2 separate regions of the Homo sapiens genome follow, and region 2 is linked to region 1. Evidence: fine-mapped expression QTL. A gene starts in region 1. The other region holds a variant in brackets. All regions are shown on one strand. Distances are from middle to middle. Region 1 holds the start of DBH (dopamine beta-hydroxylase). Region 2 holds the start of SARDH (sarcosine dehydrogenase).

Evidence for each region.
Region 2: its variant is fine-mapped to the expression of DBH in esophagus muscle (GTEx, PIP 0.95).

What each region holds. Positions count from the first base shown.
Region 1 is chr9:133,630,460-133,642,929 of GRCh38, forward strand. It overlaps DBH (dopamine beta-hydroxylase), which reads left to right and starts at 5,904. Exons shown (of 12, transcript NM_000787.4): 1 at 5,904-6,251; 2 at 9,387-9,533; 3 at 11,748-12,005. The coding sequence starts at 5,913. RefSeq lists an enhancer at 7,169-7,904.
Region 2 is chr9:133,735,723-133,748,192 of GRCh38, forward strand. SARDH (sarcosine dehydrogenase) reads right to left here and starts at 2,630. Exons shown (of 21, transcript NM_001134707.2): 1 at 2,532-2,630. RefSeq lists a silencer at 7,353-7,503 and enhancers at 7,515-7,574, 9,945-10,239. The variant G/T (reference allele first, on the strand shown) is at 5,386.

The DNA of each region.
Region 1 (12,470 bases):
GAACCAAAACCATAACAGGACAAAAAGAAGGGAACACAGTCTCCGACTGCACTTGGGGGTCCCACCAGAGTGTGACGGTGCCAGCAGACACTAGGAGAGGAGGGCGCTTGTATTTCCTGTGGCCACTGTAACAAATGACCAAAAACTCTGAGGCTTAAAACAACACGATTTTTTTTTTTTACAGTTCTGGAGGTCAGAAGCTCTAAAATCAAGGTGTCTGCAGAGCTGGCTCCTTTTGGGGGCTCTGGGAGGGGAATCTGTTCCCACCTTTTCCAGCTACCAGAGGCCTCCACATCCCTTGGCTCATGGCCCCTGCTCCGTCTTGGAAGCAGCCTCCTCTCCTTGGACCCCATCAATGCATCTCCTTCTCTCTCTCGTAGGACCTTTGTGATGACATGGGGTCCACCCAGCCAATCCAAGACCACCTCCCACCTCCGGGTCCTTAATCTAATCACACTGAATGTCCCTTCCCCAGGTAGCCTACCCGACTTGCAGGGATCTGGACGTGGCCATTGGGGGACATCCCTCTGTCTGTCACACCACACGCCAGAAGCTCAGAGAGATTCCAGGGAGGGAGGCGGATTCTCATGTTCTCCGAGACCCTCCTGGGCCAGAGCCCTGCCTGTTGGACCCTGTGATGTCAGTGGGTGCAGCAGCCCCCGAGATGGATGCGGGTGAGGGCAGCCCGGGGCTGTCTCGCTAGCCCTCACTGCATCGGCCCCATTCTGGGTCAATGGTAGGTCAACCTGGTGGATCTCTGAGGTGACCAAGCTTACTGACAGATGAACTACAGCCTCAGGAAGAGGGTCATGGCTGGCAGGAGCCAGCGGGGGGCAAGACCAGCAGCCCTGAGTGCTGGTGCAGGCCACGCAGGGCCCAGCCTCTGTAGCCAGAAGTCAGCGCCAGTGCCGGTCCTGAGCAAGATGGCCATTTCACAGATGAGGAAAGAAGGCTCAGGGCTGTGGGGACTGTCCGGGTGGGTCACATGGCCGGCAGGTTTCAGGGCCTCTCTTTCCATCTGGTGCCCACAGTTACGCTGTGGCTTGGGTGTGGTCTGGAGCTACTGCCTCAGGACCCACCACCATCCTGGCAGTGTGGTCCCTTCAGAAAAGCTGAAAATGCAAAAATCAGGCACATGCACCTCCCCCCATGAGCTGCTCAAGAGAGAGGAGCAGTCACGCATCCTTATGGAGAAAAGGAGAAGCAGGACCCAGAAAGGGTTTCCCTGTAAGATTCCTCAGGGCCCAGCAGGCCTCAGCCCCAAGATTGAGGCCAAATTATTGGAGGGGTGTGTGTGTGTGTGTGTGTGTGTAAAACTGAGTATGTGAGCATGAGCCCAGAGCTGGGGGTGCAGGCCACGCAGGTGTGAGAGTCCACCTCCCCATCTCGCTGACCCCTGTGTATGGAGGAGAGATGGAGGCGGGGGAGGCTGTGTCCTGCCCAGGCCAGCCGCCTGCCAGTGACAGTGGAGGACTTGCTCACAGTGGGGCTGCTTGGGGTCACACAGGAGTGGCCTGGCAGGCCTGGCAGCCCCAGCCCTGGAGCCAGCCACAGACTCCTGGGTTCTGCTTCCCTGGGAGCTTCCAGGGGAGTGTCACTGGGGCTCACGATACCGACCCCTTCTGGGATCAGTGGCCCCTTGCTTTTGGCACAGAGCTTCAGGGCCAGAGGGTGCCTCTAATCCAGTAGCTGAGGAAAGCTTTCAGTGGTGCTCTGGGCACCTCTGTGACCTGCCCTGGGCCCAGTCCTCATGCTGATCCCACTGTAGCCACCCTACTCAGTGCCCCAGGCCCTGGACACCTCAGGCCATGGGATATCCCAAGCATTCAAACTCTCACGGCCACCTACGCTTATGAGCAGAGGCAGAGGCATGGTGCCACCGCTGCCTCCTCAGGCAGGATATGCTTTTTGTTTGTTTGTTTTGAGACAGGGTTGTTCGCTGTCATTCAGGCTGGAGTGCAGTGGTGTAGTCAGGGCTCATTGCAGCCTCAAACTCCTGGGCTCAAGCGATCCTCCCGCCTCAGCCTCCCGAGTAGCTGGGACTACAGTCTTGTGCCACTATGCCTGGCTAATTTGTTTTTATTTTTATTTTGGTAGAGACTGGGTCATGCTATGTTCCCCAGGCTGGTCTCGAACTCCTGGGTTCAAGCAATCCTCCCGTCTTTGCCTCCTAAAGTCCTGGGATTATAGAGGTATGAGTCACTGTGCCCAGCCCAGAATGTGCCTCTTAACTTTCATACCGCAGCCCCTATGCTCAGGACGAGGAGGGACATAGGCCAGCTGCCCCAAGTTCCCCAAGGGGACTGTGCCACCCTGGAGTGGGCTCTGTGATGGACAGAGTCACCGTCTCCCAGCAGCTCCCAATCCATCCCATCACAAGTCAGGTCTAGGCACTGCCATCAGACTGATAGTTGAATTTTTCCTGCCAAGAGGAGGTCCCTAAGAGCCTGAGCCACAGGCGAGGGACAGTGCTGTCCTGTGGCCAGGCCCCGTTGTCACTGGGGAGTGGCCTGGCCTGTTCACTCACCCAGCTCCAGTCTGCACCACCGTCGCTCCACTTGGGGTTGTCACTGCCTGAGGTTAGGACGTCAGCAGAAGCCAGCCTCATGTGGCAGAGGCGATGGGGAATTACAGCCTGCAAAGGCTGATGGCATCAGAGAGATTCAGGAAAGCAAAGGGCTTATTAAAAAGCTGAAATTGGTTCTAAACAAGGTCAGCCGTCGATGCGCCTTGGAGGGAAGCCAGGCGCTGAGCAGCAGGAATGGGGCTTATTTCCTGACACCGTGGCCGTGACACCCTGCACCTCCCCGGCCTACCCCACCCCCAACCCCACTCCCACCCCCATTCCCATCCCCACCCCCACCGCCACCTCTGGAGGGCAACGTGCACCCAGACACTGGAGCAGAGGCAGCAGGGGTGGGAGCAGGGAGGAAAGCCCCCCGCGGGGCACCACAGGGAGGCATGTGGCCAAGAGAGCACCTGGCAAGCAGGTGTCACCTCTGAGGAGGGTGAGGGCAGGAGGAGAGCTGACTGTTGCTTCCTTACCCTGGGGTCGGATTGCTCCCTTTTAAAATCCATTAATGCAAGGAAGGGCGCAGCCACGGGGCCATCCGATTGGATTCGCTCCCTCCCGCCCGGCCCCAGTCTCCGCAGATTTTCTCTGCGGTTGCATTTTTCATTTGAGCGTCCCTTCCTCTTGACTCCAGTGGAATTTTTCTGACCTTGGCTGACAAGGTGTGCAGCCCCCTCCAGCTCAGGGCACCCTCTTTGGGGTGCTTGCCCCAGGCACTGGCCCACCCTGTGAGCTCAGGCGCATTGTCTCGCCTCTCCGAGGCTGACTCTCCTGTGTCTGAGACAGGGATGATCGCACACCCAGCCACCCAAGGCTGGCCAGGATGGAGGCAGGGCAGGGGAAGCCCTGGTGCGGCCTGACTTGTGTCTCCTGTCCCTCCCTAGGACTTAGTTATCAGTATTTTGGAATCAGCTGAATCATTTCTGTCAAATGCTAGAGGAAAGCCAGTTTTGAGTTGGATAAAGAAAATGTCTTTGATTCCTGTTAAAAATAAACATGTGTGCATAACACTGCTGAGCACGAGACCGCACCTGCCGTCCCTCCTTAGAGCTCCCAGCAGCTGTTGGTCTTTGGCGTATCCGGGAGAGGAGCGAGGCCTGGAGGTGTGTTGAGCCGTCCAAGGGCTGGTAGCATCAGGGGCTCTTCACTGCCTCTCGCTCCACAGAACCGCTGGGTTGAAGGAAGCTGGAGGGATCAATTGTCCTTGTCATCCAACTTCCTGTGTCTGTAGATGGGGAGGAGGCGCTGGGTTGGAAAGCGCTTCTCTGAGGACGCCAGCTGCGCATTCAGGAGGGCGGAGCAGGATATGACCCCAGAGCTCTGACCCCGGAGGAGCAGGAGGGGTGCCTGGGGCCTCAATACCCCAGAGGGGAGAGAGGTGCCCCCCTTCCCACAACGCGGGCCCCAGCTGGTGCTCGTTTAGCCTGTTGTCTAGCTGGAGCCACCTGGGTGGCCACCAGGCTGCTGGGAGGGCTCACCCCTGAGCTGGGTGTGCTGTGGAGCCCGTGACCCTCACCTCTGCCTCTGCTGGCTTTTGTTATCCCGTGCTGGGAACACCAGTGCCTGCCCACCCCGGAGGCTCTTCGTATCACCGGCTCGCTGTGGCCGCTCCCCAGTCCCGAGAGTGAATGTCCGGGATGCAGCAGACACCTGCTTACAAGGCACAGGTGAGGAGGTTTTGGAACTAATCTGAGGCATGAAGGTGAGGTGCTCTCAGGCGACGGAGGTGGCATGTCCTGATGGGAAAGCCAGGCCTTCGGAGGCTGAGACCCTTCCCAAGGCTCACCAGAGAACTCCCAAGAGTGTCTTTCCCCTGGCCTGGGAGACAATTTCACACCAATGCCACACTCTATTGCACAGGTGATTATGCACTTGGACCTCACCTGCCTGGGCTGTGGGTGGGGGCGAACGGTGCCCCTCTGGGTGCAATCAGTGGGGAGGGGCTCATGGCCTGAGCTTGGCTTTGCAGGATGGCCTGGCCACTGTGGGGCAGAGAGCACTGCCTGCGAGGGCCAGGGGAAGGCTGGCACTTTCTCCAAATTTCACGTTCGTGCAAAGACACAGTCATTCCTTTCTACAGCGTAGAGCTCAGAGCTGAAGCAGCCTCCAGACCTGCTGTCATGGGTATTTAAGGACCTAAATGTTGCTGTCAGCCTATGACATGAATGTGCCCCTAAGGCTAGATTCTGGGTTTCTCCAGAGAGACGAGAAACAGGAGGGAAAAGGAAGGAAGGGAGGGAGGAGGCTGGGGAGGAGGGACAGCTTCTAGTCCAGCTGGAGAGATCTGTCAACCCAGCCTGGGGGGTGGAGCTGGAGGGATCAAGCAGAATGTCCTGAAGGCAGCTGCCCTCAGTCTACTTGTGGGAGAGGACAGGAGGGAGAGGTGCCGTGGTGAGACTGACCCTCGGGCCCACGGGTGGATGATGGCAAAGGTCCTGTGGCAGGTGTGGGAGAAGCAGGGCTGCGGCCAGCTGCCCTGAGAGGCTTCAAATTCAGGCCAGATCTGCTCTGGGCAAGAGGAAGCTGTGGGTTTGGGAGCTTCAGAGACAGGGGAGCAGGCCTGTCACTCACCCTCTTTTCCTTAAAGGCTGTCACCCCCAGCAGTGCACCCTGCAGCCTGCCTATCCCCTGTGCAGCTCCAGCTCCGTCTGTCCCCAGCAATGCACCCCACGCCCATGTCCCCCACTCCCTATGATGCTCTCGCGCCTTCTGGAGCAGCAGTGGTACCAGCTGGAGGCTGTGGAAAAATTGAGAGGAGACAAAAGTGGGAAGAGCAGGCCGTGGAGAGAGTGTCTAAACACAGGGACTATTTGGAGATTGTCTTATTTTTGGTTTGAAATGGGCCCACCTGCTAGTATTGTACAAACGGCTCTGCTCGCTAGGCCAGGCCTGCAGTGGCTACGGGCCTATCCTTCACTGGTCAGCCTGGAGCAGCTCCTCGGACCTCAGTCTGCTCATCCGTGGGTAGAGGCGACGCAGACCCCATCCCACTGGGGACTGGGCCAGACAGCCTGTGAGGCAGTCAGCTGGTGCCTGGCCAGAGGGTGTCTGAAAGGCCTCTTGGCTGCAGGGTGCATCTGCTTTTGGGACAGCTCTTCAGAGCCATCTCAGAAGGGACAGCATCCGCCTGTCTACTTCAACTCCCACTGATGACGTCCATGTGTCATTAGTGCCAATTAGAGGAGGGCAGCAGGCTGAGTGCTTGGCCTGGGGCGCAAGCTTGTGGGAGGGAAAATTGGATTCCCCGCTAGACAAATGTGATTACCCGTGCTGCCTGGACCCACCCCATTCAGGACCAGGGCATAAATGGCCAGGTGGGACCAGAGAGCTCACCCCAGCCATGCCCGCCCTCAGTCGCTGGGCCAGCCTGCCCGGCCCCAGCATGCGGGAGGCAGCCTTCATGTACAGCACAGCAGTGGCCATCTTCCTGGTCATCCTGGTGGCCGCACTGCAGGGCTCGGCTCCCCGTGAGAGCCCCCTCCCCTATCACATCCCCCTGGACCCGGAGGGGTCCCTGGAGCTCTCATGGAATGTCAGCTACACCCAGGAGGCCATCCATTTCCAGCTCCTGGTGCGGAGGCTCAAGGCTGGCGTCCTGTTTGGGATGTCCGACCGTGGCGAGCTTGAGAACGCAGATCTCGTGGTGCTCTGGACCGATGGGGACACTGCCTATTTTGCGGTGAGTCTCTCCTCCCTGCCAGCTCTCCAAACCCTTCCTGACCCGGCACCCCATCTGGCCGTCTTTCTGCACTCACCCTCCTTAACCCAGAAAGTTCTTCTGTCACCTGTCAGTGTTTGAGTTGACTCTGCTCTGAGCCAAGTCTGCACCCCGAGCTTGGGCATCATGGGGATCTCAGTTTGAGGACAAAATAGGAAAGACATGCTTTCCATGGTCCTTGACTGCCCGCCCCAAATCATGGGACCCAGTAATCCCAAGGAATGGAACTATACACAGAGGACGCACACACCACACACACTCGTGCCGCTCCACACCCCACACGCGCATGAGCACAGACCCCACGACCCTCGGCCCTGTAAACAATGCCTAGTACCACGTCCCCAGAGCACACATGCCCACTGATGTGGGCCAGGTGGTGGCGCGTGGCTGGGCACAGCATGAGGCCTGCACACCCATGGGATCCAGCCTGACCTACTGTGCTTGTACCCGTGGACCAACTGAGCAGGTGCAGACACCCTGCCCCTACCCATAGGTGTTGAACAAGCCCCACAGGGCTCAGCCAAAACTGTTAGGATGGGCTCTTGACTCCTTTCCGTCCAAATTTACCTCCACTCTTGTTTCACAGGGTGGAGAAAGGGGAAAAGTTTCCCTTCAAACTGGAGGGGACTTTAGGCCCTTCCACAAGCTGCAGGGGGTCCCCGAAGTGGGCGAGCCCACCGCCTACAATGGGTCCTGCTCCAGCCTTCCTTTCCACATGGGACTGGCCACCAGGGCTTCTTTGTGGATGAAACCCAACTCTCTCCACAGAAACACACAAAGGAGTGACAAAAAAGTTTTATTTCTGAAGTCAGGAGGTGCCTGCTTTATCTGGGAGTGCCGAGCTGGAGCGGGGGAGCTGTGTCTGTGCGGAGCGGCCGGCTCCAGCTCTGCATCTTGGTCTCACCATGGGCTGGTGGGGCGGAGAGTCCCTCTCTGCCTTTTTGGGTGTTGTGAATTCATGAGGGCAGATGGTGGCTGCTGTTTCTGGAGCTGAGCTTGCCCCCTCCAATTCCCAAGACTCGGCCAGGAGGCACTTGCCTGTGTCGCTAGTGAGGCTTAGGGCCACCCAGGTAGGGTGAGTGGAGCTGCCTGGGAAGGGCCCTGCTCTGACCCATAGGGCTGCACAGATTCCTGTGCACAAAGACACTCTGTGGCTCAGGTTCCAGCCAAGAAAGACCTGGGACAGCCCTGATTCTGAGCCGTCAGCCGTCTGGAGGAGCAGCTGAACCCCATCGCTGACAGTTTGGGGTTCTTCGCAAGCCTCTGCCATGAGGCACCCTGAGTGCAGGAGCATTTGCTCCTCTCTGGGGCAGCGTCCCCCCTGCCTGCATTTCCCGGCTGCTAGGGAAGCCAGAGGAAGCCAGGTGACTTTGCCTTTCCGTGCACTGGCAAGGTTAATTTGCACAACAAATTCCTACGAAAGCAAATGTCAGCCTTATTATTCCTCCCTAAGCAATATGTTCAACTAATATCTTCTTGATTTCCAGCTGAAATATCACAGGCGAACTTTCTGCCTCTGTTTAAAATGAGTCTCTCGGCAAACCAGCGGTGTCCCCAGCGGGGTTGCATTGTGTGGCTTTTTTCTCTAGGGAAAGTTTTGCAGTATCTTTTGCAGATTTCTTTTTTCTCAAGGAAATGAAGAAAAGATGTTTTACCCTGAATGTAAGATTAAAAAGAAACACAACCCAAAGTCCTTAAGGCCAAGGGCCCGAGGCTTTCTTGGGGTTTCCATGGGAAAGGCCAGGCAGGGCAGGGAAGCAGCTTCGTTTGGACAATTCTGGTGGGCTCTGGGTGGCTGGGGTGGTCTCTAGTTGCCTGGTTCCTGGCCCTAGGGTGTTTTAGGGTTGGGGCAATATTGGCCTGGGGTGTGAGAGTCAGGTGGAGGAGGTAGCTAGGGATATGGGCTTGGTGTGGGTCGGAATGTTAGGAATATGATTCTCACACACGTGTGAATGTTGGAGGGCAGGACAGGTGTAAACAACTCTGACCATCTGTTTGAGCCTTCAATCAATTAATAGATGCCAAATAGACAAATATGGAATCTAAGAAGGGCCCTTCTTGAGTACGAAGGGCAGCCTGCTTGTTGGGGAAGGCTCCTCGCTGTCTCTCAGTGGGTCTCCCTGGTGGTCTTCCATGTGACCTGGCCTCGGGCCACCGTGTCCCTGCCCCTTAGGGCCCAGTGCAAGGGGAGCGGCCGGAGACGGGGAGGGCAGAGGTCACTGATCCAGATCCCAGGAAGCATCCTCGGAGAATGCAGCAGGTCCAATGCCTCCCTGGGCCTCAGTTTACCTTCTCCAAGCAGGGCTGGGACTAAGGTGAGGGGAACAATGCCTAGGCTGCAGGGTTTAAAGTGGTGCTTCAGGCTGGGTGTGGTGGCTCATGCCTGTAATTCCAGCACTTTGGGAGGGCAAGGCAGGAGGACCGCTTGAGGCCAGGAGTTCAGGACCAGCCTAGGCAACATAGCGAGACCCTATCTCAAAAAAAAAAAAAAAAAAATCCAAAATTACATGTATTTATAAAGTAATAAAGCAGTGCTTGTTCTCAGGGTTGTGCCAGTGCAGGGTGGGCACCTGCTATCAATCACCATCTTAGATGTGGCACCCTGGTTTCTCTCTCCTTTCCTGTTCATGTCCCACCCTGTTCCCAACTCTCCCCTTTCTGAGGCTCCGCAACTCTCCTGCCTGCATGAATGTGGGCAGCATTGGTCTGAGGCATTGTTCCCAGTCTTGAGGAGGCCTTGGGAGCCTCAGGCATCTTCTTAAGAAGCTCAGTGTCCCGCCCGCCAGGCCCGGGAATGCCCATGGCTAACAGAACCTGTGACCTGCTGGCAAGTGACAGCCCTGGTTCCTGGCTGCAGAGGAGGAACCAACTCCACTGTCGGGGCTCATCTCCACTGTCTCCAGGCAGAAATGGAGATAGAAGGTGTGAGTGAAGCCACAGCCCCAGGCAGAACCCTCAGATCCACAGGGACTGAGGCCCAGCATCCCCAGATCAGCTGGCAATGAATGCGGAGCTCTGCCGGGGAATGCCCTCTTCCCCTGTGGATTGGCCCGGCTTGGCTCCTTCATGCCTGGAGCCCAGTGCTTGTCTCTGCAGGACGCCTGGAGTGACCAGAAGGGGCAGATCCACCTGGATCCCCAGCAGGACTACCAGCTGCTGCAGGTGCAGAGGACCCCAGAAGGCCTGACCCTGCTTTTCAAGAGGCCCTTTGGCACCTGCGACCCCAAGGATTACCTCATTGAAGTAAGGGGTGGCCGCGAGTACCCAGGAGGGCGTGGGCTGCGTGTATCATGCTGCCATCCTGTGCCAATGTCATAGTACCTTTCCTGTCCCTGATAAGTCTGGGGCCTGGGCCTGGCCAGCTATGACAGAGAGAAAGCCAAGGAGGATGGCCAGAGGCAGTGGTGGGGCCAAAGCACTTAGGATGGTCCAGCTCTGCTATTGCCCCTGAGCCCTCAAAGACGCAGCTCTTTGCCAACACGTAGCTGACATGGTTTCTAGATGCGGGGCTTGTGCTGAAGCCTCTCCCATTGGACTAGACCTTGCTTCTGGATGTCTCTCTCCTCCTGGTCCTGTTAACCATCAGGTGGGATTCTGGAGCCCAGGCGACCTGGCTTTCCATCCCGGCCCTGTTGCCAGCTCGCTGTGAGGCTCGGGACAACTGCCCCCCTCCTCTGGACCTCACTTTGCCCATCTGTAAAATGGAGATGGGAACTAGATGATCTGTATGGCCTGACCAACTCTGGGAGTTCATGGGAGCCATAAAACATTGTAAAAGCCATAGGCTTCTTATGCTGCTCTAAGAGCCCCCCAACCTCTTAGGGAAAGCAACCCACCTTGCCCTTGAAGACAAAACTCTTTTAACTCTAGCACACCTGACAGCTTTTGTCTTGTGTAAGTAATCCTTTGGTGTGGCAGTGGCCTGGGCTGGCCGTTAGTGCCAGGTCTTAATCATGGGTGTAGCTGAGTGACCACACGGGAGGCCAGTGCCATCGAAAGATTGATTGCATTTCCGGAGAGAAGGGGCACCTGTGCCGTGCAGGGCCACCTGCAGAGCCCTGGGTTTGGTCAGGAGGCAGATGCAGGAGCTAGGGGAGAGCCCAGGCCTGAGGCTTTCTTGGGGTTTCCATGGGAAAGGCCAGGCAGGGCAGGGAAGTTGCTTCATTTGGACAATTCTGGTGGGCTCTGGGTGGCCGGGGTGGTCTCTAGTTGCCTGGTTCCTGGCCCTAGGGTGATTTAGGGCTGAGGCAATATTGGCCTGGTGTGTGACAGTCAGGTGGAGGAGGTGGCTAAGGATATGGGCTTGGGACGGGTTGGAGGGTTGGGAATATGATTCTCACACAAGCGTGAATGTTGGAGGGAAGGGCAGGTGTAAACAACTCTGGCCATCTGTTTGAGCCTGCAATCCATTAATAGATGCCAAATAGACAAATACGGAATCTAAGAAAACAGAACAGCTGGCTGTTTGCCAGATGAGGAAACTAAGGCCCGGAGACGGGGAGTGGATGTACCCAGGGGTTCGGGGTGTGCTGGGGCAGACCTGGTGCCAGAAGAGGTGTTCTTCCAGGAGGTTGTTGAGCCCTTACCCTGCTTCCCAGTGGACGAGGCAAGGGTGAGCAGAGAACCCTCTGGAAGCACCTCACAGGGGGAGGCCAATGCCTGTGTGTGCTCAGCCCAGTGGCCCCAGGCCAGGTATAGGGGCCTTTGCCTGGAGTTCTGGGCGTCCCCTGCACAGGGCGGCCCATCGGCTTTCCGCAAACTCAAAGAGCAAATTAGCCACCCACACGGGTCTGCACTGTGGAGTGCCCAGAAAGCTATGAAAGGCACTTTCCACACCCGATCCCCGTTTCCATTCATGACAGCATGTGAGGAAGCCAGCCCCACAGCTTGCCTCCTGAGTCTGCCTGTGGCCTCCAGCACCGCGTAGATCCATGGAGCTTTCTGTGGCTGCTTGGTCCCCTCCTGCCAAGCTGGTGGTGACTACATAATATAGCGTGGCTCCGCAGCTCAGCGTGACCATCAGCAAGCCCCAGGGTGTTTCCTTCCCTTCATAGAGGGCACTGAATCCTCAGGCTGGGCTGCTGAACTGACCAATGATCCCCCACACCCAGTCCCCAGTGACCTTGGGGTTGGTGGAGGGAACAAATGTTCCGGCCACACTGGCTCACGGCGGGCCCAGTAGTCACTGGTTGAATGGATGTTAAGTGAATGTAGGTGGAATGTGTTTAGAAGAGAAAAGTATTTGATGGCCGGTGCAAATAGGGGATCCTGGGGGTCGTCAGCCCGGGATTTGGCCCCAGCCAGGGCCATGCAAGCCTCAAGGGTCCCTTATTCACAGAGATGAGAGTGAGGTGTGTCACCTGGTAGGTGTGGGTGGGCAGGGATGTGGCATCCTCTCAGGAGCCCAACTCTGGGGGCTCTGAGAGGGCGACCAGCTGAACCCTGTCTCGGCTGCAGGACGGCACTGTCCACTTGGTCTACGGGATCCTGGAGGAGCCGTTCCGGTCACTGGAGGCCATCAACGGCTCGGGCCTGCAGATGGGGCTGCAGAGGGTGCAGCTCCTGAAGCCCAATATCCCCGAACCGGAGTTGCCCTCAGACGCGTGCACCATGGAGGTCCAAGCTCCCAATATCCAGATCCCCAGCCAGGAGACCACGTACTGGTGCTACATTAAGGAGCTTCCAAAGGGCTTCTCTCGGCACCACATTATCAAGGTACGTGCGGGTCCAGGGCCGAGGTCCTCGCCCAGCCCTGCCTTCCTCCCGGGCCTGGGTTGTCCCTGACCCTGGAGAGCTGTCCACAGTCCTGGTTGGACCAGGTGTCCTCTTATCACTGGAACCTCAGGCACCTGCCTGAGCAGGGGAGCAGCAAGTGGTCTTGGCTTCCCCATCACTCTGCTCACTCCCCTACCCTCAAAGGGCCTTGGAGCTCCCACTTCCCTGCCTGGACCAAAGTGACCAACATCTTGACTTCTGCATCTTTCCTTGGGACTGGAACTGCTGTCTGTCTGCCAGGCCACCTCCCCCTTCATGAAAAAGCAGCTCGAGTCAGAACTCACTTGCTCTCGAACACCCGTCCGGGGAAGACAGAATAGCAAAGGCGATAGCTGTCGAGTGTCCACTATGCCACTAGTCCCGGGGGAGGGGCGAGGTGATCCCTCCTTCATCATAAGAGCCCCT
Region 2 (12,470 bases), 110 kb after region 1:
AAAACACACCCCTCGGTGGAGATTTTAAGATGCTAATGAGGCCGGGCTCTGTGGCTCATGCCTGTAATCCCAGCACTTGGGGAGGCCGAGGCAGGCGGATCACCTGAGGTCAGGAGTTTGAGACCAGCCTGACCAACATGGAGAAACCCCATCTCTACTAAAAATACATTAGCCGGGGGTGGTGGTGCATGCCTGTAATCCCAGCTACTCTGGAGGCTGAGACAGGAGACTTGCTTAAACCCGGGAGGTGGAGGCTGCAGTAAGCCGAGATTGTGCCATTGCACTCCAGCCTGGGCAACAAGAGTGAAACTCCGTCTCAAAAAAAAAAAAAAAAAGATGCGAAAGAGACATGTGACGTATGAACAAACATGTACAGCTACCGCATGTGCACCCAGAGGACCAGCCATCACATGCTGCCTAGTAACCTCTTCCTCTCTTTCCACCCACTTATGAATAATTGTGGAAGACTCCCTGAAAGGGGGTTTCTCCAACAATCATCAATGCTGCCTCACACTCAGGAGCAGCCCCCCGCCTGGAATCCTCTCTCTCCCAGGGTGCATCCGCACCTAACTTTCAAAATGTTCTTTTTCTTTTGCAATAAATTGCTCTATGTTGCAGCTCTTTTGCTGTGTGTCTCATGTTTAAATTCTGTTTTGTTGTTGTTGTTGTTGTTTGTTTGTTTGTTTGTTTTGAGAAAGAGTCCCACTCTGTCTTCCAGGCTGGAGTGCAGTGGCATGATCTTGGCTCACTGCAACCTCTGCCTCCTGGGTTCAAGCGATTCTCCCACCTCAGCCTCTCGAGTAGCTGGGATTATAGGTGCATGCCACCATGCCTGGCTAATTTTTGTATCTTTAGTAGAGACAGGGTTTCACCATGTTGGCCAGGCTGGTCTCGAACTCCTGACCTCAGGTGATCCGCCTGCCTCGGCCTCCCAAAGTGCTGGGATTACAGGCATGAGCCACTGTGCCCAGCCTAAATTCTTTAAACTAAGAAGTTAAGAACGGAGGTCTCACAACAGCCCTCAATGGAAGGGTGGGGTGGTGTCCTGCCCAGTGTGGACCTCCACTGCCCTTTTCTGGGATCTGCAGGAAAAGTGAAAGGGATGTGGCTGTGATCCAAGATGTGAAGTGCTGTGCCACCTACGTCAGTATGAATGACTGATATAATTATCTAAGAAAGTCAGCATCCTTTTTCAAGAGTGGACCATAGCTATGCACGTTCGTTCACTCTCATTGAACACCTATAGACACATGATAATGTCTCTACTTCACAGCGGGGGAGTCTGACACACGGAGAGGCTCCCTGAGGTGACCAGGGTCATAGGGCCTCCATGTGGCAGTGCCAGGGACTCTCTCCTGCCCCCTCTTCTGACCATCCCAGGGGGACTCAGGACCCACTGCCACACTCTGTCCCACCTGAACTGTGGGCACTGCCCAAGCCCTGACGAAGCCCAGAACCCTGTCCTAGGCACAGTGGGGGATGTGAGGGGGATCCCAGCTCTCAGGCTGGTCAGGGCTGCCCCCCATCTCCTGCCCCAGTGCCCCATCCCAAGGGAGGGAGCAGGGAGTCTGATTGCAGCGGCGTAGGGGAGTGAGGAGGTGTTGGAGCTTGTCCTCAGCCTCTCAGCCCTCAGTGTGTCAGCCCGCCTGGCTCCTGCCTGCAGAGGTGGCCCCGGACAAGGAGGCATGCCTCCTGCATGTGTCTGTACATACCTTCAGTCCTTGAAGGTCCACAGTCTTCCAGGAGCCCCCAAAAGTGGTGCCCCACCAGGGGAAAGCCAGCTTGAGTGGCACCGAGGAAGGCCCTCCAAGGCTGAACACCCCCACCCCACCACCCACCACCCACCACGGTGCCGCATGGCACAGCACACCTGGTCAGCTGTGGGCAAAAGCCTCCCTCCTCCTTCCGACTGTGCCCAAAAAGCGACAGCTGCTGGCGCCGGAGGCTGCCACGTGCCCCTTCACCACCTGCCTGGTCAGTCAGGGCTCTTCTGACTGTCAGACTGGGGGCTGGCAGCGGCCCCAGCGGGGACAGCCCAGAGCCCCTCCTGCCTGCCACCTCCCTGGAAACAGCTGCCTCCACATTAACCCACTCTCTTGCCCCCTCCAACTCTGTCTCGTACCTGAGTCAGCTTCCCAGGAGTGAGGGCTGAGGACAGCCCTGGGCTTGGGATCAGACAGATGGGTGGGGGTTTTGTCACAGGACTGGGGCCTCGAGCAACAACTTAACCTCACTGCAAAGCAGAGGACCCAGGAACGCCCTCCTCCTCCCAGGCTCAGGGGGTGGTGGGGGTCAAGCGAGGAGAGCGCCTGGCACCTTCGCCTGGTGAGGGTAGGCAGACTTGTGGGGAGGAGCGGCAGGGGGCGGGGAGGCAGCTGCCCATATGGTGAACCCTGGTCCTGCTCATGCAGCTGGATGGTCCCTGCAGCCAGAGGCAGAGGGAGATCCCAGCCAGATCTGACCAGGCCCAGCCCCGCCCACATAGGGGAGGCCCCAGCCTCGTCCCTCCCTGGGGGTGTACCTCCAAGTACCTCTTGTCAGCTGCAGTGCCCCTCGGCCCTAAGAGTGCTTGGCCCAGCAGAGGTGCCTTCACCTTCTTGCTTCCCAAGCAGTGGCCTGGCCGGAACTCCAGGCCTCCCCCGCCCCCCACCCTCGCTGCCAGCCCCATGTCTCCGCCCAGGATCTGGGCGGAGCGTACCGCCCACCACTGCGGCTTCTAGGCCAGCTTAGTTGGGGCTTCTAGGCCAGCCCTGTGGGCAGCTCCCTCTGAGGGCGGCAGAGCAGGGTTGTGAACCCCATGCCCCATTACCCGTAGGCGACCTGGCAGTCACCCTTCCGCTCCAACCCTCATTTCCTCGTCTCTGAAACAGGCGCCTCAGGGTTGCTGCAGTAGACCCAGGCACCACCTGCCTGCTGGAGCCGCCCGAGCTCCCCGCGCCCAGAAGGAGCTATGCACAGGCAGGGTGGGCAGGAAAGGTGGGGTCAGCAGCAGCTTGGGCCAGGGGCCCGTCCACTGCAGGGAGGCTCCTTTGGTGAGGTCATCTCAGCACATGCCCCAGTTTGCTCACCCCCAGGGACAGGATGCTCACTGCCTTCAGAGGCGAGTGAGAAGGCCTGGGTCAGCTTCCCAGGGACAGGGTCTCCTGGTCTGTCTGCGTCCTGCTTTCCCGAGCTCCCAGACCCCTCTGGTGTTTGGGGAGATGCCCCCAAGCCACTGGCTACTGCACAGCACGTAGCCCCCAGGGCAGGGATTCCAGCCTCCATTGACTGTTGGGGACAGCAGTGCCCAGGGAGGGGGCCACACAGCAAGCTGGTGGAGGAGGCAGACCGGATGCTGCAGCCTGACTCTGGGCTGGGGCAAGTTACCCCTTCCCAGACAGAAGTAGACACCCAGAGGAGGGGTGTGGAGGAAACCCAGAAAGAATACACCTCTGGATGCCCAAAGAATCAGAACAGGTGCTGATGGAAAGTCACATCTCCTCCTCGCGCTGGATCAAAGACGGGGCATTTCAATGGCAGTCTGTTAATATTGTAATGATGCCAGCTGCCAATACCGGAAGCGATCGTATAGTAAACTGCTGTAATTAATACCAATCAAATCATTGTGTTCTTATTCACACCGAGGATGTCCGACTGTCTTGTTGCCAGCTTGTCTATCCTCTACATTTACTGAATGCCCAATGTGTACAAAGCACTGCTGGGAAACCTATAGTGACATCTAAGACCCAGCCCCTGCCCTCGAGGGGCTCAGGGTCCACGAAGCAGACAGATCCAGGGAGAGACACGACACCACAAGGCTGGCTTCCTTCCAGCAGGGAATCCAGGAGGACCTCTTAGAGGAGGGGGCCTGGGCTCTGGGCCTGACCACGTGCTGACACCATTCTCAGTCCCTGCCTCAAAGGCAAAGGGCCCACTGGCTTAGGCCCCTGGCTGCCCAGTGGAAAGCTGGCCCCGCCAGTTTGAGGCTTACCTGGGGTGGTGTGGGGGTCCTGGGGCAGAGGACCTCCTCTTTGGATGGTGTGGCTTGCCCAGTGGCCTGAGCTAGGGCTGTGCTCACCCAACAGGGTGACGAATGAGCTCAAGAGGGCAAGGAAGGAGTGTGGCCCAAGTTCTCCCAGGAGTCCTGGACGTGCAAGTGCATGGGAGAAAAACGCAGCAGTCACCACAGCTCCAGGGCAGTGGCCGGGTAGCCCACACTTCTCCTGTCCCTGCACTCAAAGACAAGTTGCAACTGTTGCAAAACTGTTACAAGCCAAGAGGGCAGCACAATGAACCTGCACTTTGGACAAGGGGTGGTGGCTGGGGGCCGGTCCCGGCCTGTTAGCTGTCTGTTAGTATCGTAGGATTTTCATCCGGCAGGGCCTGTTAGCACCCAGCTCCGGTCTGGGAGAGGTGGAAAGGCTGTCTCCCCCCAGGGACTAGTAGTCACAGCTCTGGAGAGGCCAGGCTCCGGACAAGGAGGCCAAGACAGGGTCCTGTACGATCTCGGGCTGGTCTTATCACCTCTCCCTTTGCTGAGACTTAGTTTTCCCATCTTGGAACAGGAGGCTGGAAGCCCTGCCATGTCAGTTTCACAGAAGCCTTGTAAATTTCCCTGAGTAAATTTCCTTCAGTCCTGCTCTAGATCACACCAACAGAGGGGCTGCCACCTCAAAGAAGTCACCCCACCAGGGATAAAATCTACTTGATCACGGTGCATGATCTTTTTAATGTGCTGTTGAATTTGGTTTGCTAATTTTTTTTTTTTTTAGACGGAGTCTTGCTCTGTCGCCCATGCTGGAGTGCGGTGGCACGATCTCGGCTCACTGCAACCTCCGCCTTCCCGGTTCAAGCGATTCTCCTCCCTCAGCCTCCCAAGTAGCTGGGATTACAGGCACGCACCACCGTGCCCAGCTAATTTTTTGTATTTTTAGTAGAGACGGGGTTTGACCATGAATGGCCAAGCTGGTTTCGAACTCCTGACCTTAAGTGATCCCCCCACCTCGTCCTCCCAAAGCGTTAGGATTACAGGTGTGAGCCACCGCGCCCAGCTGGTTTGCTAATATTTTGAGAGGATTGTTGCATCTATGTTCATCAAGGATATCGGTCTATAATTTTCTTTCTTGTAATGTTATCTGGCTTTGGTATCAGGGTAATGCTGGTCTCGTAAAATGAGTATGACTCTATGTTTAGTGCACTCTGAAGAAAACTGTGGTGCAAATCAAAGTCACAGTTGACTCTACATTCAGGAGTGAGGGGCTGCCTCCAGGTTCACTGCCCTCCCCAGCCTCCCCGCCACCGCTCCAGTGGGGACTGTGGTAGACTTGTTCCTCTGCCCTCATGGCCTGGACATACCTGAGCCAACCCCAAGACTCTTCCTCTGGCTCAGGCTGGCCCTCTCTGCAG[G/T]CCCCCACCAGCCCTTGGCCCCGACTTGCTGGCCAGGCTTCCAGGACAGAGAGAGGTGCCTGCAGGCTGCCCTCTGACGGGGCAGAAGTCCAGGGAGGAAGAAGCGGAGGCGTTGGGGGAGGAGGCTCCTCCACCGAGCTCTGCGTGCAGCCCTGTGAAAGAGGACATGAGCAACAGCATCCCAACCCAAACTATAAGAGCCAACATCACCACTGACCAGGAGGAAGGCAGTGCCCCAGTCACCTCTGAGGGCCTCCTGGGAGTCAGGCAGCGTGCTAAAGGCTTCACACGTGTCATCTCAAATGAGACAGCAACAACTGCTACCCATCGTGGAGATGGGAAAACTGAGGGAGAACACAGCCAACAGGTGCCAGACCCAGGTGATTCATGGGCCAGGGAAATTTCCAGAACAATTTTCAAGGGCTGAATTTACACTGCCAAGATTTTATTTTTTCAATAAGAACCTGAAAAAGAAAACTACCACTGAATATCCCCGTGATTTCATGAAGACAGAATGTTTTCTATCCTCTGTCAAAGTAGAAGAGATGCCCTCCCAGGGTAAGGGTGGTCCTTCCTGAGAAGCAGGTGGCTGCCCCCATCTGCCTGACACCGATGCACAGAGGCAGGTGGAAATTGCTCCAGGCCTGAAGCCATCTGGGCACAGGCATTCCCAGGAATGAGCTGCTGAAGTGACCCCCACCTGGCAGTTGTGGCCTGGGGCCGTTGTGGGCTCGGGCTCCTGAGGGCCGGAATGCAGATCCTCATTCCCCGGAGCACCCTCTCCACTCCATGGCCTAACACTGTTTGTGAGTGAAAGAAACATGGTGGATGGAATCCGCGGTGGAATCCATGGAAACATGGTGGATCCCGGCGGCTGAGCCTATGCCAGGCAGGTGCCAGGAGTGCTTCAAAATCATCTCGGGGCCGGGCACGGTGGCTCACGCCTATAATCCCAGCACTATGGGAGGCCGAGGCAGGTAGATCATGAGGTCAGGAGATTAAGACCATCCTGGCTAACACGGTGAAACCCCGTCTCTACTAAAATTTTAAAAAAATATTAGCCAGGCGTGGTGGTGCGCGCCTGTAGTCCCAGCTACTTGGGAGGCTGAGGCAGGAGAATGGTGCGAACCCGGGAGGCGGAGGTTGCAGTGAGCCGAAATTGCGCCACTGCACTCTAGCCTGAGACTAGAGCTAGACTCTGTCTCAAAAAGAAGAAAAAAGAAAAGAAATCATCTCGGGGCACTGTGTCCATGGCCGCAGGCACTGCCACCGTCTGATGGGGACACAGGACATGGGGCTTCAGAAGGACTTCCTGCCCACAGTGGGGAGCTGACCTCAGCCCTGGCGTAGGGCCCCAGTCTGCACTGGGGATTTGGAGAGAAGGATGGAGAAGCAAGAGGGAGGGCAGAAGCTGGAAGCCTGGGCTCACCAGGGTCTGAGACCCACAAGCACCGCCTAGACCCCTCAGCTAGTCAGCCAAACCTTCCAGGGCTCTCATGTGCCTGCCCAAGGGCAGGGGATCCCTGGCATGACCCATGCTGTGCTTTGTGTCTTTGTATGTGTTGCCCTGGAAACTCCCTGTAAAAATCCAGATTTCCAAGCTTCAATCTTGAAAAGCTGGCCACATGGGGCCCAAAACCCACTGGACACACTTAGGTGGGTCACTCCTACTCCAGCTGGCCACAGTTCTTACCCTGCATTTTGCCCTTTTGCATTTCCCGCTGGCATCTGGGAGCTTTGCCCTTCCAGCACTGACCAGGACTCCCAGCACTGACCAGGACTCTCCATCCAGCTGCAGGAGCAAGAGTAACCTTCAAAGGAGATGCTGGTGCTGGCTGGGCAGCCAGGGAACTGTGCGTCTTGCACAGAACGGAGGGTGGGAGGACTGTGCAGTGCTCTCTTTGGGCCCCAGAATCTGAATGCCCTTCCAGATACTCAGGTGAGGGCAGCAGCCCACCACGGATGAAAGTCACTGGTCACCTCCAGGCTGTCTGCCCTGGAAGAGTAGCCTTGGCAGGAAACACCGCCCCTGGTGGCCACACGTGAGTATTACAACCTGGCGGAGCTGGACCCAGTCTCAGAAGGGGACTAGCAGGCAGATAGGGGGTGATCTTACACTGGTTGGGACTGACAGCCTAGGCTCAGCCTGGCTCCTATCTTCTCTTCCAGACCACACCAGCAGAGGGGCTGTCACCTCAAAGAAGTCACCTCCGCCAAGGATAAAATCCACTTGATCAGGATGCATGATCTTTGTAACGTGCTGTTGAATTTGGTTTGCTAATATTTTGGTGAGGATTTTTGCATCTCTGTTCATCAAGGATATTGGCCCATAATTTTCTTTTCTTGTAATGTCCTTGTCTGGCTTTGGTATCAGGGTAATTCTGGCCTCATAAAATGAGTTTGGAAGTGTTCCTTCCTCTTGAATTTTTTGGAAGAGTTTGAGAAGAATCAGCATTAATTCTTTCTTAAATGTTTGGCAGAATTCACCAGCGAAGGCATCAGATATCCTGGGCTATTTTTTGTTAGGAGGTGTTTGATCACTGATTCAATCTCCTTACTCATTATTGGTCTGTTCAGATTTTCTAGTTTTTTGTTTGTTTGTTTTGTTCTTGTGTGTTTGTTTTTTTGAAGTGGAGTCTTGCTCCCGTCACGCAGGCTGGAGTGCAGTGGCACGATCTCAGCTCACTGCAACCTCCACCTCCCGAGTTCAATTGATTCTCCTTCCTCAGCCTCCTGAGTAGCTGGGATTACAGCCTGCACTACCATGCCCGGCTAATTTTTGTATTTTTAGTAGAGACGGGGTTTCACCATGCTGGCCAGGCTGGTCTCCTGACCTCAGGTGATCCACCCGCCTTGGCCTCCCAAAGTGCTAGGATTACAGACGTGAGCCACCACGCCCTGGCCGATTTTCTAGTTTTTTTTGGGATTCAGTCTTGGTCGGCTGTCTGCTTCTAGCAATTTATTCATTTCTAGGTTATCCAATTTGTTGGCATAGTTGTCTATTATTTCTTTGGTATCAATTGTAATCTTTCCTCTTTCATTTATAATTTTCTTATTTATCTGAGTCTTTTTTTATTTTAGTCTAGCCTAAGGTTTGTGGGTTTTGTTAACCTTTTCAAAAAAACTCAACTCTTAGTTTTGTTGATCCTGTCTATTGTTTCTTAAGTCTGTATTTCATTTATTTCTGCTCTGATCTTTCTTTCTTTCCTTCTGCTAACTTTGGCCTTAATTTGTTCCTCATTTTATAGTTCCTTGAGGTGTGAAGTTAGGTTGTTTATTTGAGATCATTCTTAACGTAGGCATTTATTGCTATAAACCTCCCACCTAGAATCACTTTTGCTGCATCCTATGAGGTTTGGTATGTTGCATTTCCATTTTCATTTGCCTCAAGATATTATTTTATTTCCCTTTTGATTTCTTATTCCACTCATTGGTTGTTCAGGACTGTGTTGTTAAATTTCCACACATGTCCGGCCGCCATCCCATCTAGGAAGTGAGGAGCGTCTCTGCCCGGCCGCCCATCGTCTGAGATGTGGGGAGCACCTCTGCCCCGCCGCCCCGTCTGGGATGTGAGGAGCGCCTCTGCCCGGCTGCAACCCCGTCTGGGAGGTGAGGAGCGTCTCTGCCCGGCCGCCCCGTCTGAGAAGTGAGGAGACCCTCCACCCGGCAGCCACCCCGTCTGGGAAGTGAGGAGCGTCTCCGCCCGGCAGCCGCCCCTTCCGGGAGGGAGGTGGGGGGTTCAGCCCCCTGCCCGGCCAGCCGCCCTGTCCGGGAGGGAGGTGGGGGGTCAGCCCCCCGCCCGACCAGCCGCCCCGTCCGGGAGGTGAGGGGCGCCTCTGCCCGGCCGCCCCTACAGGGAAGTGAGGAGCCCCTCTGCCCGGCCACCACCCCGTCTGGGAGGTGTGCCCAGCAGCTCATTGAGAACGGGCCATGATGACAATGGCGGTTTTGTGGAATAGAAGCGGGGGAAAGGTGGGGAAAAGGTTGAGAAATCGGATGGTTGCCGTGTCTGTGTAGAAAGAAGTAGACATGGGAGACTTTTCATTTTGTTCTGTACTAAGAAAAATTCTTCTGCCTTGGGATCCTGTTGATCTGTGACCTTACCCCCAACCCTGTGCTCTCTGAAACATGTGCTGTGTCCACTCAGGGTTGAATGGATTAAGGGCGGTGCAAGATGTGCTTTGTTAAACAGATGCTTGAAGGCAGCATGCTCCTTAAGAGTCATCACCACTCCCTAATCTCAAGTACCCAGGGACACAAACACTGCGGAAGGCCGCAGGGTCCTCTGCCTAGGAAAACCAGAGACCTTTGTTCACTTGTTTATCTGCTGACCTTCCCTCCACTATTGTCCTATGACCCTGCCAAATCCCCCTGTGCGAGAAACACCCAAGAATGATCAATAAAAAAAAAAAAAAAAAAAAATTTCCACACATGTGTAAAATTTCCACTTTTCCTCCTGTTATTGATTTCTAGTTTTATACCATTGTGGTTGGAAACGATACTTGATATGATTTCAATCTTCTTAAATGTGTTAAGACTTGTTTTGTGAGCTAACATATGATCTTTCCTGGAGAATGTTCCATGTGCACTCGACAAGAATGTGTGTTCTGCTGCCATTGGATGGAATGTTCTGAATCTATCTGTTAGGGCCATTTGGTCTGTAGTGTTGCTCAAGTCTCCTGTTTTCTTATTGATTTTCCAGCTGGATAATCTGTCCACTGTTTAAAGTGCTGAAGTCCTCTACTATTATTGTAATCTATTTTCCCTTCAGTTATGTTAATATTTGCTTTACAGAGTTAGGTGCTCCCATGTTGGGTGTATATATATATATAGAGAGAGAGAGAGAGAGAGAGAGAGAGACAGAGAGACAGAGAGACAGAGTCTTGCTCTGTTGCCCAGGCTGGAGTGCCGTGGCATGATCTCGGCTCACTGCAACCTCCGCCTCCCAGGTTCAAGCGATTCTTCTGTCTCAGCCTCCTGAGTAGCTGGGACTACAGGCACGCACCACCACACCTGGCTAATTTTTGTATTCTTTTAGTAGAGACAGGGTTTCACCATATTGGTCAGTCTGGTCTCGAACTCCTGACCTTGTGATCTGCCCGCCTTGACCTCCCAAAGTGCTGGGATTACAGGCGTGAGCCACCGTGCCCAGCCTAGTGCATGTATTTTTTGAATTGTTATATCCTCTTGATGAATTGATCCATTTATCATTATATAACAACTGTCTTTGTCTCTTGGGATAGTTTTGATTTAAAGTCTATTTTGTCTGATATAAGTGTAGCCACTTATGTTCTCTTTTGCTTCTCATTTGGATAGAATAACATTTTTCAGCTTATCTGTGTCCTTAAAGCTAAACCAAGTCTCCTGTAAGCAGCATATAGTTGGATTTTGTTTTGTTTTGTTTTTTAATCCATTCAGCTGCTTAGTGGCTTCTGAGTAGATAATTTAATCAATTTAAATTTAAAGTAATTATTAATAGGTAAGGACTTATTACTGCCATTTTGTTAATTGTTTTCTGATTGTTTTGTAGTCTCATTGTTCCTATCTTCCTCTCTCACTGTCTTTATGAGATTTTTTTTTTTTTGTAGTGGTATGCTTTGACTCCCTTTTATCTTTTGTGGGTCTACTACAGTTATTTTTCTTTGTGGTTACCAGGAGGTTTATATACAACATTTTATAGTTATAACAGTTTAAGCTGATAACAACTAAACTTTAGCCACATACAAAAACTCTACACTTTAATTTCTCCTCTCCCACATTTTATGTTATTGGGGTCATACTTTACATCTTTTATATATTGTGTATCCATTAACAAATTATTGCTATAATTATTCTTTAAATTTTATACTAGAGTTAAAATAATTTATGTATCACCATTACAATATGCTATGCTTTGGATGTTTTTGTCTTCTACAAAATTCATATTAAAATTTAGTCCCCAGTGCAACAGTATTGGGAAGTGTGTCCTTTGGGGTGTTTACTTCATGATGGCTCTGCCATTATAAAAGGGATTGATGGAAGAAGTTTGTCCCCTTTTGCTCTTCTACCCTCTGCCTCTGCCGTGTGAGAATGTAGCAAGAAGACCCTCACCAGACACCAGATGCTGATGCCTTGATCTTGGACTCCCCAGCTTCCAAAACTGTGAGAAATACATTTTTGTTCTTTATAAATTACCCGGTCCGTGTCATCCTGTTACAGCAGTGCAAAATGGACTAAGACACAGTGGCAGAGTACTCCCAATTTGACTATATTTTTATCTTTACAGAGTTTTTATACTTTTGTGTCTTCATGTTGTTACTGTCCTTTCATTTCAACTTGAGAAACTCCCTTTAGCATTTCTTGTAAGGCAGTGATAATGAACTCCCACAGCTTTTGTTTGTTTGGGAAAGCCTTTATCTCTCCTTCATTTCTGGACATCTTTCCCAAGGTTGACAGTTTTATCCTTCTAGCCCTGTGAATATATGATCCCACTCTCTCCTGGCCTATGAGATTTCTTCTGAGAAATTCACTGATAATCTCCTAGGGGTTTCCTTGTATGTGATGAATTGCATTTCTCTCACTGCTTTCAAATTTATCTCTGTCTTTGGCTTTTGAGAATTTCTCTTTTTTGAAGATTTTTATTTTTAATTTTTGTGGGTACACAGTAAGTGTATACATTTATGGGGTACATGAGATGCTTTGATACAGTTATGCAATATGAAATAGGCACATCATGGAGAATGGGGTATAAATCCCCTCAAGTATTTATCCTTTGAGTTACCAAAAATCCAATTACACTAAGTTATTTTAAAGTGTACAATTAAGTTAATTTGACTTCTACCTTTCCATTGTGGTTGCCCTTTATATCTTTCTCTTGTCTGATTGTTCTAGCTATGACTTCTAGTACTATGTTGAACAACAGTGATGACAGTGGCATCCTTGTCATGTTCCAGATTTTAGAGGAAAGGGTTTCAGTTTTTCCCCATTCAGTATAATCCTAGCTGTGGGTCTTTTGTATATGGCTTTTATTATGTTGAGGTATGTTCCTTCTATCCCCAGTTATTTTTTTGTTTGTTTTTTGGTTTTTTGTTGTTTTTTTTTCTTTG